3 linked regions of the Homo sapiens genome follow. The protein of the gene in region 3 interacts with the protein of the main gene of each other region in a pairwise test. Each region holds a gene or a part of one and is shown on either strand. Other genes may lie near its edges.

Region 1 (3,754 bases), on a different chromosome or scaffold from region 3:
ACTTGAGGCCAGGAGTTCAAGACCACCCTGGCCAACACAGTGAGACCACCTCTCTACTAAAAATACAAAAATTAGCCAGGTGTGGTGGTGGGTGCCTGTAATCCCAGCTACTTGGGAGGCCAAGGCATGAGAATTACTAGAACCCAGGCGGCAGAGGATGCCGTGAGCCAAGATTGCATCACTGCACTCCAGCCTGGGTGACAGAGCGAGACTCTGTCTCCAAAATAAATAAAATAAAATAAAAATTTACTTTTATGGTTTTAATGAAGTCATAGTATTGAGGTTAAGAGCACAGATCCTGGAGTCAGACTGCCTGGGTTTGTAATGTGGCTCTATCATTTAGCAGCTGGGTGATGTTGGCCAGGTTTCTTGACCTCTTTATGGCCCAGTTACTGCACTGATAAAATGGAGGAAAATAAGTCTCTCCCTCATGGTGTCTGTGTGGATTTAATGAGATAACATATGGCAAGTATTTAGACAGTGCCTGGGCATCGTATTACGTAAGTGTTCACTACTATTACTATGCCTTGGTTCAACTGATTCATCAACAATCATTTCAACTCTATGCTCAATGTCACGCAAGGTAAATATATTGAGTGAAAAGGACATGAAAGCTTTCAGCAGCTGATGGTGGAAAAGACAACACAAGGGCACAAATGAGCAAATGTGGGATTACATGGCATAGCCTGTAAATGCAAAGGAATATCATGTGCAGCTGGGATAGCTATGGGATGCTAAATGGAGATGATAGGTCCTAAAATAGACTTGAAACAAAGGCAAGATTCAGAGTTGAAATATACTGGTGAGCATTTTAACCCGTATCAAGGACTTAAGTTCAGGGGATAGGCCAGAGATGAAGCTCACTTCTGAATTGGGACCAAGATTTATGTTTACACTGGCAACTACAGCTACCTACTTTCAGCTAGAAAAAAATCTCCAGTCAACCCAAATATGAGGGACAGGGGGCTTGACCACAAGGCACAGAGGGTAAAGGGAAAGTAGAGATCAGATCTTAGCTCTGGTTTGGCATTAGGCCCTTGTTTCCAGTTTTATCTTCCATTACTTGGTTTACACGGAAAGAAAGACTGGCATAGATACATACAGAAATATTAGTCTTAACCCACTGTGCATTGGGCCTAACCTGGTTCATCTAGGAAACCTCCTCACACTCTTTCTATTCAGCCTGAGAAACTATGGGGAGTGATAAGGTTTGCTGAATTTTGAAACAACATATGAGAAATAACAACAGAGAGGGATGGAGCTAGAACAATCTATCTGAGAACAATTTTAGAGCAGGACAGTCGATTTTAGATTATACACAGGAAAAAGGTCTCAGAAAAAGTAGTAAGACACAGAAGGCCACCTAATGCCAAGGTACAGAAATTTAAAGGAAGTCTCCAAAGCTAAGATAAGGTAAAATAAATAAATAAGATTACAGAAACAGCCCACAGCTAAAGAGAGTAGGAAGTTTGCCCTCAGAACTTCTGAGTTCTGACAGTCCACAGCTAAAGAGAGTAAGTTTGCCCTCAGAAGCTGGGGCAAACTTTCACGATATGTTGCAGCCTTCCATTAGATCCTCTACATTAACCCATTGCCTTCAGAGCCCTTTTAGAAGCTGGAAGGTAAACTCAAAATTCTCCCATCACATTTTGTCCTTGGATCCTTGTACATTTACCCATTCATTACTTCTTGGTGACATCTAGTGGTATAATTTAAACCAAGCCCTGAGTCAGGTCTGTTCATATAAGGAGACTAGAAAAGGACAAAAATCCCATGGCGGTACAGAACAATCAAGTACTGCCAGATATGATCTCAAATACAATGGCTTAAATAATCATGCTCTGTTCAAGGCTTTCTTAATGTTGGTTTTCATAACTACCCATTTGAACAATGCTAGCAGCAGAAAATGATACCCAGAAAAGTCTGCCTGATGTGTCCTAGCCACCAATGGGAAAAAAGTGGGATAATTCACATCCACTTAGACAGGAATTACTTCACTAGATGCTCAATCTCTGTCCAGCTGCTTTTAAACAGTTATTGAGGAAAGTGGACACTCAAACCAAAAGACAATGTTTTCTTGGAGTGCTTTAGATAATTTACGTAGCTCAGTGGTTCTCAACCCTGGCTATACAGTAAAACTACCTGGGAAGGTTTAAAACAAAGAGCAGTGCCTAGGTTTCACCCTCGGAGTGAGTTAAGTGGTCTGAGATAGGAACTAAGTATCAGTATTTTAAAAGTTACATTTATCTATAAACACATATAGTTGTGTAACTATATCAAGAAACAGTGCCCCTTGGTAGTCAACCTTTCCCGCATTCCCAGGCAACTACTTATCTGTTCTCTTCTCTTTCCCAGAATGTAATACAAATGGAATCTTATTATCTACACTTTTGAGTCTTGCTTCTTTCACTTAGTGTAACGCCTCTGAGATTCGTCCACACTGTTGCATTATCGGCAGTTTGTTATATTTTATTGCTGAGTAATATTGAAGGTAGTAGGGGTGGAGCACAGTTTATCCATTCCCTAGTTGTTTTTTTTCCCAGTTTTTGGTGAATATTAATAAAGCCACTACAGGCCAGGTGTGGTGGCTCACGCCTGTAATCCTAACACTTTGGGAAGCCGAGGCAGGTGGATCAGCTGAGGTTAGGAGTTCAAGACCAGCCTGGCCAACATGGTGAAACCCACCTCTACTAAAAAGACAAAAATTAGCCAGGCGTGGTGCCGCATGCCTGTAATCCCAGCTACTCGGGAGGCTGAGGCAGGAAAATCACTTGAACCCGGGAGGCAGAGGTTTGGGGAGCCGGGTTCACGCCATTGCACTCCAGCCTGGGCAAAAAGAGCGAAACTCCATCTCAAAATATAAAAACAAAAAAAATAAAGCCACTAGAAACATTCACATACAAGTTTCTGCGAGAACATAAGCTTTCATTAATCTTGGGTAAATACCTAGAAATAGGATCACTGGACAAGTATATATTTGACTCTTAGAAACCACCAGTTTTTCAAAGTGGAGGTACCATTTTATATTCACACTTGAATGTTGAGGAGTTCCAGTTATTCTGCATGCTTGCCAGCACTTGGTATCATCAAGTCTTATTTCAGCAATTGTATTAAGTATGTATCCGTCAATATATTTTTTAAAGTCTTTACTAAAGCGGAACATGCAAACATAAACGTGCACAAATCATAAATGTACCAACTCGATGAACAGTCACAAAATGAACATCTTAGTGTAACTACCATAAGGTCAAAAACAAAACAAACCCCACATTATCAGCATCCCAGAAACCCCTGTGTGTCTCCTTCTAGTCAGTAGCCACCTTGGCAATAAAGTGACTACTATCCAGATTTAACAGCACATGTAAATTTTGCCTGGTTTTAAACATTGTATAAATGGCATCATATAATATGTATTCTTTTGTGTCTGTCTTCTTTCACTCAATTTTTTTTTTTTTTTTTTTTTGAGACAGAGTCTCGCTCTGTCCCCCAGGCTGGAGTGCAATGGCCTGATCTCGGCTCACTGCAAGCTCCGCCTCCCAGGTTCATGCCATTCTCCTGCCTCAGCTTCCAGAGCAGCTGGGACCACAGGCACCCGCCACCACGCCTGGCTAATTTTTTATATTTTTAGTAGAGACGGGGTTTCACCATGTTAGCCAGGATGGTCTCGATCTCCTGACCTCGTGATCCGCCCGCCTCGGCCTCCCAAAGTGCTGGGATTACAGGCGTGAGCCACAGCGCCCAGCCTTCTTTCACT
Region 2 (3,754 bases), on a different chromosome or scaffold from region 3:
AGAGCTGACCACACAAGCTGATAGAATTCTTTTCTGCATCGAAGTAGCACTATTCCAGTATAGGCATTGAGATATCGAACTACAACAGGAAAGAAAAATCATTTTGGAAAACTTTTGCTCTGTGTGGTGGCTCACGCCTGTAATCCCAGCACTTTGGGAGGCTGAGGCGGGCAGATCACTTTAAGTCAGGAGTTCGAGGCCAGCCTGGCCAACATGATGAAACCCCGTCTCTACTAAAAATACAAAAATTAGCTGGGTGTGGTGGTGCGCACCTGTAATTCCAGCCACTCAGGAGGCTGAGGCATGAGAATCGCCTGAACCCAGGAGGCAGAGGCAGCAATGACCCCCGATCTCGCTGCTGCACTCCAGCAGCCTGGGCAACAGCCAGACTGTCTCGAAAAAAGGAAAACTTTGGAGTAACAGAGCCTACTATGTGCCAAAAGTATGTTGTAGGCAAGTGGCACGTAGATCTATCAGCGAGTAAAAGAGAAAAGCCAAAACACCCACTGTGTTGCACACCACTCAGAACTGGTGAATGAATTTAGAATTGAAAATGCTTTCTAATTCACTAGTTAATTCAATAAATAGGAGCAGGTAGGAGGCGATCCGTTTTAATTTAGGAAAAACCCCCACAAAACCCTTGCCTGAAAAACAGGCTGTTTTACTGCATTTGGGCTCCGTAATTATTGTAGCAGTCAGCTCTCAGTCTCACCTGACTTAGGAGAGTTAAGTCTATCTGCATTTAACTCTCCAGAAGTCAATCTCAAACAAGGTTAAAGTGGGAACTAATTTAAGTGGTGTGAAAGAAGGGCCCCTCTGTCCTAGCTCATCCTGTATTTACATATATTGACAATCATGTGTTCTGTACTTTACCAACTATTTAAGGGCTTTCCCGGAGTACTTTTGACAATTTTTTTCCATATGATGTTAATGTAATCGGTCATATAATAGCTCTTACTAGGAAGTATACACAGCTTCCCTCATTTAATTCTCTACCCTATCAAATTCAATCACAACCAATTACAGAAATTACCTGTCAAGCAGGTAAAAAGAGGCTTCTAGCTCAAAGCCCCACTGCCTTCGGGCCCCTCCTTTTAGCGCTCTGCTAATTTCGGACTCTCGCTTGGGGTCCCAGGCGCTTAAAGAGATACCTTACAAAAAACGGTGCACGGGCTTGGCCACTCGTGCCCCTTCTTTCTTCCTCCGGCGCCTGCCCCCTCCACATCCCGCCATCCTCCCGGGTTCCCCTCTTCCCCCAGCGCCCTTGCACCCGCGAAGCCGATGGAGCAGGCGGCTGCGCCGAAAGTTCCGTGCACCCTGGCGATCGTGTCCCGTACGAGGCTGCTCAGAACTCGGTCATCGAGGCTTAGGCGGCAGCGGGGGTCGTCAGACACCAGTTCGCAGAGCAGGTACCTGCGGCAGGCGAGAGGAAGGTGGACACTAGCGGGGCCGCGAGGACCCAGCAAGGCACTGGGAGGGTCTGGAAGGGAATGCTTACCTGTGCTTGAACCGCACCATGGCTGCCTCCGCGCTCTCCGGTCCGGCGTGCAAACCGGATGTGAATTCTGTCCGCTGCCAATGGGAAGCTTGCTTCCGCAGCCTTTCAGCCATTCAGAGAAGGAGACAGGATATTAGGGCGGAGCTAGAAAGTTGAGAGGCCGAAGTCTGTCAGCTCTCTCAAGCCCCGCCCAACTGCGTTTGTAAGCGCGCATGCGTCCTGCGGAGGGTCACTGACTAGTTTGAGGGCTGAACCCCGGGATGGAGCGCCTTGCAGCTGTAATGGATGGTTCTGTTGCACACTGAAGTTTACAATAGTGTGTAGGATGTAGCCGCTACCCTTGGGGCCCTGGGAACCTTGCACCACAGTTATGTATGCGAGTATATTCTCTCCCCAAGGTGAACGGTGGAGCTTTTGAGGGCAAGACCCTGCACCTCACAGCCCAGGCATTGACAAACGGGAAATCGGACTTTTATTTTCAGGTTTGAGCTCAGTTTAATTCTTCCATACAGCTAAATATGCTATTGCTGTTTGGGCCTTTCAGCAATCTTAGGGAGGCGAGTGTGCCGTCTCGTTTTTTGCTCGCAGAAACAATACGTGGTCATTGTATTTTCCATTTCCGTTTACCTTTTTTTTTTGACAGAAAAGCACAAAGAAGCAAATAAATTATAATCCCAGCACTGAGAGAGAATAACTGTTGTCGTGTAGTGTGTTTTCTTCTGTCATTTTCTCCCTGCGCCAGTGGTTCTCAAAGTGCCGTCTGGGGACCACTGAGATTTCCTAAATTCACTCGATTTGGGAGTCCCCGAAGTCAAAATTACTTTCATAATAATGCTAAGATGTTACTTGTCTTTTTCATTCTCTCTGAGTGAACAGTCAAGTTTTCCAGAGGCTGCTTGACGTGATGACGTCACTGCTCTAGGAATTGTGTATTGTTTTTTAAACGTTTCTCAACTTTAATGTCCATAGTAAATATAACCCACAAAACTAAAAGCTCTTGGGCACCCTCAGTAACGTGTGTAAAGGGGTCCTGAGACAGAGAAAACAGCTTGAGAACTATGCCCTCTGTTAAATTATGTTTTTTCTTTTATTTTTAAGTATTTTAAAAAAAATGTCTTATGGGGTATTACATAAAGTACATATTCTTAAGTGTATTCATCTCAATGAATTTTTACATATGGATAGACTTCTATAACCACCTCCAAGATTAAAATAAAGAGCATTTCCAGTATCCCAGAAGGTTCCCTGAGCCCTCTTCCAGTCAAATTGCTTACTGCTATCAGCCACTATTACCACTTCTACCCTGCTAGATTAATTTTGCCTGTTCTTAAACTTTATATAAATGCAGCCAGGAGGCTGGCTGCAACCTCTGCCTCCTGAGTTCAAGCGATTCTCCTGCCTCAGCCTCCCGAGTAGCTGGGATTACAGGCACCTGCCACCACGACCAGCTAATTTTTGTATTTATTTATTTAGTTTTTTGAGACGGAGTCTCACTCTGTTGCCCAAGCTGGAGCACGATCTCAGCTCACTGCAACCTCTGCCTCCTGGATTCAGGCGATTCTCCTGCCTCAGCCTCCCAAGTAGCTGGGACTACAGGTGTGTGCCACCACAACTGGCTAATTTTTGTATTTTTAGTAGGGACAGGGTTTCCCCATGTTGGCCAGGCTGGTCTTGAACTCCTGACCTCAGGTGATCCACCCACCTCGGCCTCCCAAAGTGCTGGGATTACAGGCGTGAGCTACCACGCCTGGCCATTTGGCTATATTTTCATGTCAGCTCTTCAGCGACAATACTGTTTTTTAGCTGTGCAGTATTGCATTGTTTGGACGTACCATTGTGAAGTTGGTCAGTATCCCTTTGGTAGACGTTTACATTATTTCTAGATTTTCTTGTTATACCCAATACTTTGATGCATGGCTTTGTAGCTTAGTCTTTATGCCCATCCCTGATTATTTGTAGAAGTGTCTTGGCCTTGGCTGGTCCTGTGAGGTCCGTAATGGGGGCAGCTTTCACAACCTATTTTTGCAAGATCTGGAATGAGTTCTGAATTTTCCCATCTCCCACTCTTCTTGGCCACCTTAAAGGAGGGATGTGGGGGAAGGTAGGGAAGAAAAGAATAGGAAGAGGGAACGCCGTGGCCCTGCCAAGGGACCAGTGACAGTGACGGCACTCCCCACCCAAGAACAACTTTTCACCAGAAAGTGTCTGCGACATCCTCCTTTGGCCAACAGGGGGCGCCAGAGGTCCGCAGTGCGC
Region 3 (3,754 bases):
GTGCTAGAATATATATTATTTTATTGTTACACATATAGTAGAGCTGAAAGATTTTATAACGTTAACAATCCACAGATATTAAAAATTTAACTTAACGATGAATTCTCAATTGGACAAAACATCTCTTCTATAGCTATGATTTAATCATAGATATGGCACAAAATTTAGATCTTTTAAAAATACATAACAATCAAAACAAAGCTGTCACTGAAAAACAGAAATCTTACCCTTGCTGCTCAGTCACACTAAGCAAAATATCAGTAGCCTAGTAAAGTGACCAGGAAAAGACCTATCCTAATATCAGATCTTTCCCATTTTATCATTATCAGTGAACTATTCACATGGAAGAAGTTTGCAATACTTTATAGATACTGACAAATGTGTTTTCTTCTCTTACATATTATTATTTACATATGAGAAAGCTACTACCTACCTAAGCTTAAATTTAAAAACTTGGAGGCCAACATTAATATCCTAGAGCACTTGATTATTCTCGAATGATTAAAACAGTAAAATATCTCTAAAAATTTTCAATTTTGTACACTGAAATTTATTCACCCACTATGTTATGTGAAATAAGTAGGCTGGTTAGTTAAGCAATTCTTGGCTTTAGTAGTCTGTAGGTTCATTATGTTCTTTGTTCTAGGAGCTTTGCAATTTCTAAACAATAAAGCTTAAGAATATTAAAATTACTATAACAATCATTTTTCTGAAAACTCATCATACCAATTCTCATAGTATTTACAAACTTACGAGGATTCAGAAGGTCCATGTCACTACAAGAAGCGTAGTCTTCACTAACTTCATTAAACTCTATAAATTCATCATTCTGGAATAACACAGTTAAATATTTAGAATGAAATAAAAAGAAAAACCCTCTCATTTTATATTCTTAATGCTGAGCATAAAATATAAAGGTAGCATGATAAATGTTTAAATATTTTTAATTTTTTATTAAAGCAATACATATACTGCATATTCCTACATATAAGAAATGTTTTAAATATGGAAGCAGATAGCAAGCTACTTGACTTCACCTTCTAGGAAGGAAAGACAGACCAGAAATTGAAATCCTGAGTAAAAAAAAACAAATTTCTCAGATTTGATAAGGCAATGGTAAATCTGGTAACTATTCTATGAAATTCACAATATGATTGAAGTAAATGAGTGAAAAAAAGATGGGAAGAGTTACCTATATCTTCTGTATCTTTTCTACCCTATGAAAATAGGTTATTTGTACTATTAAAAGATATAAAATAATTTTAAGCTTTTCATATCTATCATATTCTTACCTCATTTTAAATTCTTCAAGCATTATTAACATCTGTAAAAGCTCAACTGACAAGTTTTTCAGATTATCTTATTCAATGAAGAGAGAAACAACAGCCACAACAACATACAGGCTATATTTAAACAGGACTTCATTCTAACTAGACATTTTCTCATTATTCAAATATTCTCATATTTAGCATTTCCAAAAAAATACACATATAACAATCAAAAAAAAACTTTGTTATATCTGAGATATTTTATAAATGTTAAAGGAGGAAAATACCTTTTTAGACAAAAGCATTTCTGTTTCAAGAAGAGTGACACGACTAAGAAGATTAGTCCAGGTGTTTTCATCTACCATCACTTTTCCTTTCATTTTTTGTTCCAAACAGTCTAACCTTTTCTCTATCGAAGTCAGTTTCTTAAGATTTTCTTGGCATTCAGCAAGCATAGTTTGTAGTGCAGTAATCTCAGGATTAACATTTACATCCTAAAAAGGTTAGAGAGATTAAAAATAAAATTAAACAAACTGAAATTTCTTTAAAATTAATGTATTCTCACTTCCACAGCGTTATCTCAACAGTTAGGAGAGACCGTCCTGCTTGAGAGTTAAGAGAGCTATCTCTGGATGGAGACTACTTGGCCACTTAAACCAGTTCTGAGATTTATGATCTTGATGCCTCCATTTCCTCATTAAAAAAAAAGAGATAAGAGCAGTATCTATTTCATATGATTCTTCTGATAATGAGTTAATTTGCATGATTCTCTTAATACCAGCTAGTAAAATAAAACTATTATTAACTAGCTTCTTGAAACAACGCTTAGCACAAAGCTAAGAGGAAATGACCAAAAACAACACTTAGTGCATTGAGATTGTTCGGTTTGCCATATAACAGGAAGTAGGTCCAATGGCCATCTGGTAGTTTTTGTAAGTGCCAACTGTATATTGATATACTGAGATATATAGAAATCACAAGACATAGAAACACAGAAAAAGAAGTCTTAGCAGAAACAGTAGAGATCAGACATATTGGGGTCTGTGGCAATTAAGAGTAATAGAAATGGTTTTTTAAGAGAGACAGAAAATAACAGCAGGGACCCAGAAAGGAAAATGAATAGGCAATAAAGTGCCAATCTTTTCCATTCACCAATAAAGAAAATAGGTGGTAGAGAACCTCCACTATGCAAAGTAGCATATCGCTATGTCTCACTAAATTGTAGATTCCTTAAAGCCAAGTACCATATCTTATTCTACTTTGCATCACCCCAACACTTAGCCCAGCACCCTACACATATGCAGCAAATATTTGTTGAATTATTTTAGTAAGACTTATTGACACTTCAGTAATTGTAACATAGATAAAATGTCATGATTAATAATTCAAAAGGCTAGAAATATTCCAAAGTTTAGAGGCTGAAATAATTACACATATTTAAGTAAAAAATACTGGCATCTATTTAAAAAGTCCAAAGTTGTTACCTGTTGCTCAGCCTTGATTTCAGGAACCTTTACTTCAGGCATCTTTATTTCAGTAGCATTTAAGTCAGACACATCAACTGCTTCATTAACATCTGTTATTGGACTTAATGTATCCTCAGAAATGTCAACATTATCTTCATTATACAAGTGACGAATCACCACAGCTTTCTTCTGCATAGAGAAAAATATGTAAGAAACACTTCAATGTTTTCCTCCCACAATTATTTATTTTTTAACTTTTAAGTTCAGGGGTCCATGTGCAGGTTTGTTACACAAGTAAATGTGTGCCATGGGGGTTTGTTGTGCAGATTATTTCATCACCCAGGTATTAAGCCTAGTACCCATTGGTTATTTTTCCTGAACCTCCTCCTACCCTCCACCCTCTGAAAGGCTCCAATGTGTTTTGTTTCCCTCTATGTGTCCATGTGATCTCATCATTTAGCTCCCACTTACAAGTGAGAACAAGTGGTATTTGGTTTTCTGTTTCTGCATTAATATGCTAAGGATAAGGGCCTCCAGCTCCATCCATGTCTCTGCAAAGGACATGATCCCATTATTTTTTACGGCTACAGAGTATTCCATAGTGTGTATGTACCACATCTTCTTTATCTGCTCTATCATTGATGGGCATTTAGGTTGATTCCATGTCTTTGCTATTGTATTTAGCTTGATTCCATGTCTTTGCTATTGTGAATAGTGCTGCAATGAACATATGCATGCATCTTTACAACAGAACAATTTATATTCCCTTAAGTATATACCAAGTAACGGGACTGCTGGGTCAAATGGTCTTTAGGTCTTTGAGGAATTGCCACACTGTCTTCCACGGTGGTTGAACTAACTTACACTCCCACCAACAGTGTATAAATGTTCCTTTTCTTCCACAAACTCACGAGCATCTGTTATTTTTAGACTTTTTAATAATAGTCATTCTGAGAAGCGTGACATGGTATCTCATTGTGGTTATGATTTGCATTTTTCTAATGATCAGTGATGTTGAGT

What was found.
Region 1: the proteins of CEP44 (region 3) and RNF8 interact in binary tests that used the Homo sapiens proteins (3 or more experiments, as listed by UniProt).
Region 2: the proteins of CEP44 (region 3) and POP5 interact in binary tests that used the Homo sapiens proteins (3 or more experiments, as listed by UniProt).

What each region holds. Positions count from the first base shown.
Region 1 is NC_000006.12:37,363,888-37,367,641, reverse strand, and holds part of RNF8 (E3 ubiquitin-protein ligase RNF8), read right to left. Parts: intron 1-3,754. UniProt on the Homo sapiens protein: E3 ubiquitin-protein ligase that plays a key role in DNA damage signaling via 2 distinct roles: by mediating the 'Lys-63'-linked ubiquitination of histones H2A and H2AX and promoting the recruitment of DNA repair proteins at double-strand breaks (DSBs) sites, and by catalyzing 'Lys-48'-linked ubiquitination to remove target proteins from DNA damage sites.
Region 2 is NC_000012.12:120,579,845-120,583,598, forward strand, and holds the start of POP5 (ribonuclease P/MRP protein subunit POP5), read right to left. Parts: upstream 1,559-3,754; 5' UTR 1,519-1,558; coding exon 1,499-1,518; intron 1,414-1,498; coding exon 1,271-1,413; intron 80-1,270; coding exon 1-79. UniProt on the Homo sapiens protein: Component of ribonuclease P, a protein complex that generates mature tRNA molecules by cleaving their 5'-ends. Also a component of the MRP ribonuclease complex, which cleaves pre-rRNA sequences.
Region 3 is NC_000004.12:174,307,858-174,311,611, reverse strand, and holds part of CEP44 (centrosomal protein of 44 kDa), read right to left. Parts: intron 2,924-3,754; coding exon 2,753-2,923; intron 1,763-2,752; coding exon 1,556-1,762; intron 830-1,555; coding exon 754-829; intron 1-753. UniProt on the Homo sapiens protein: Centriole-enriched microtubule-binding protein involved in centriole biogenesis. In collaboration with CEP295 and POC1B, is required for the centriole-to-centrosome conversion by ensuring the formation of bona fide centriole wall.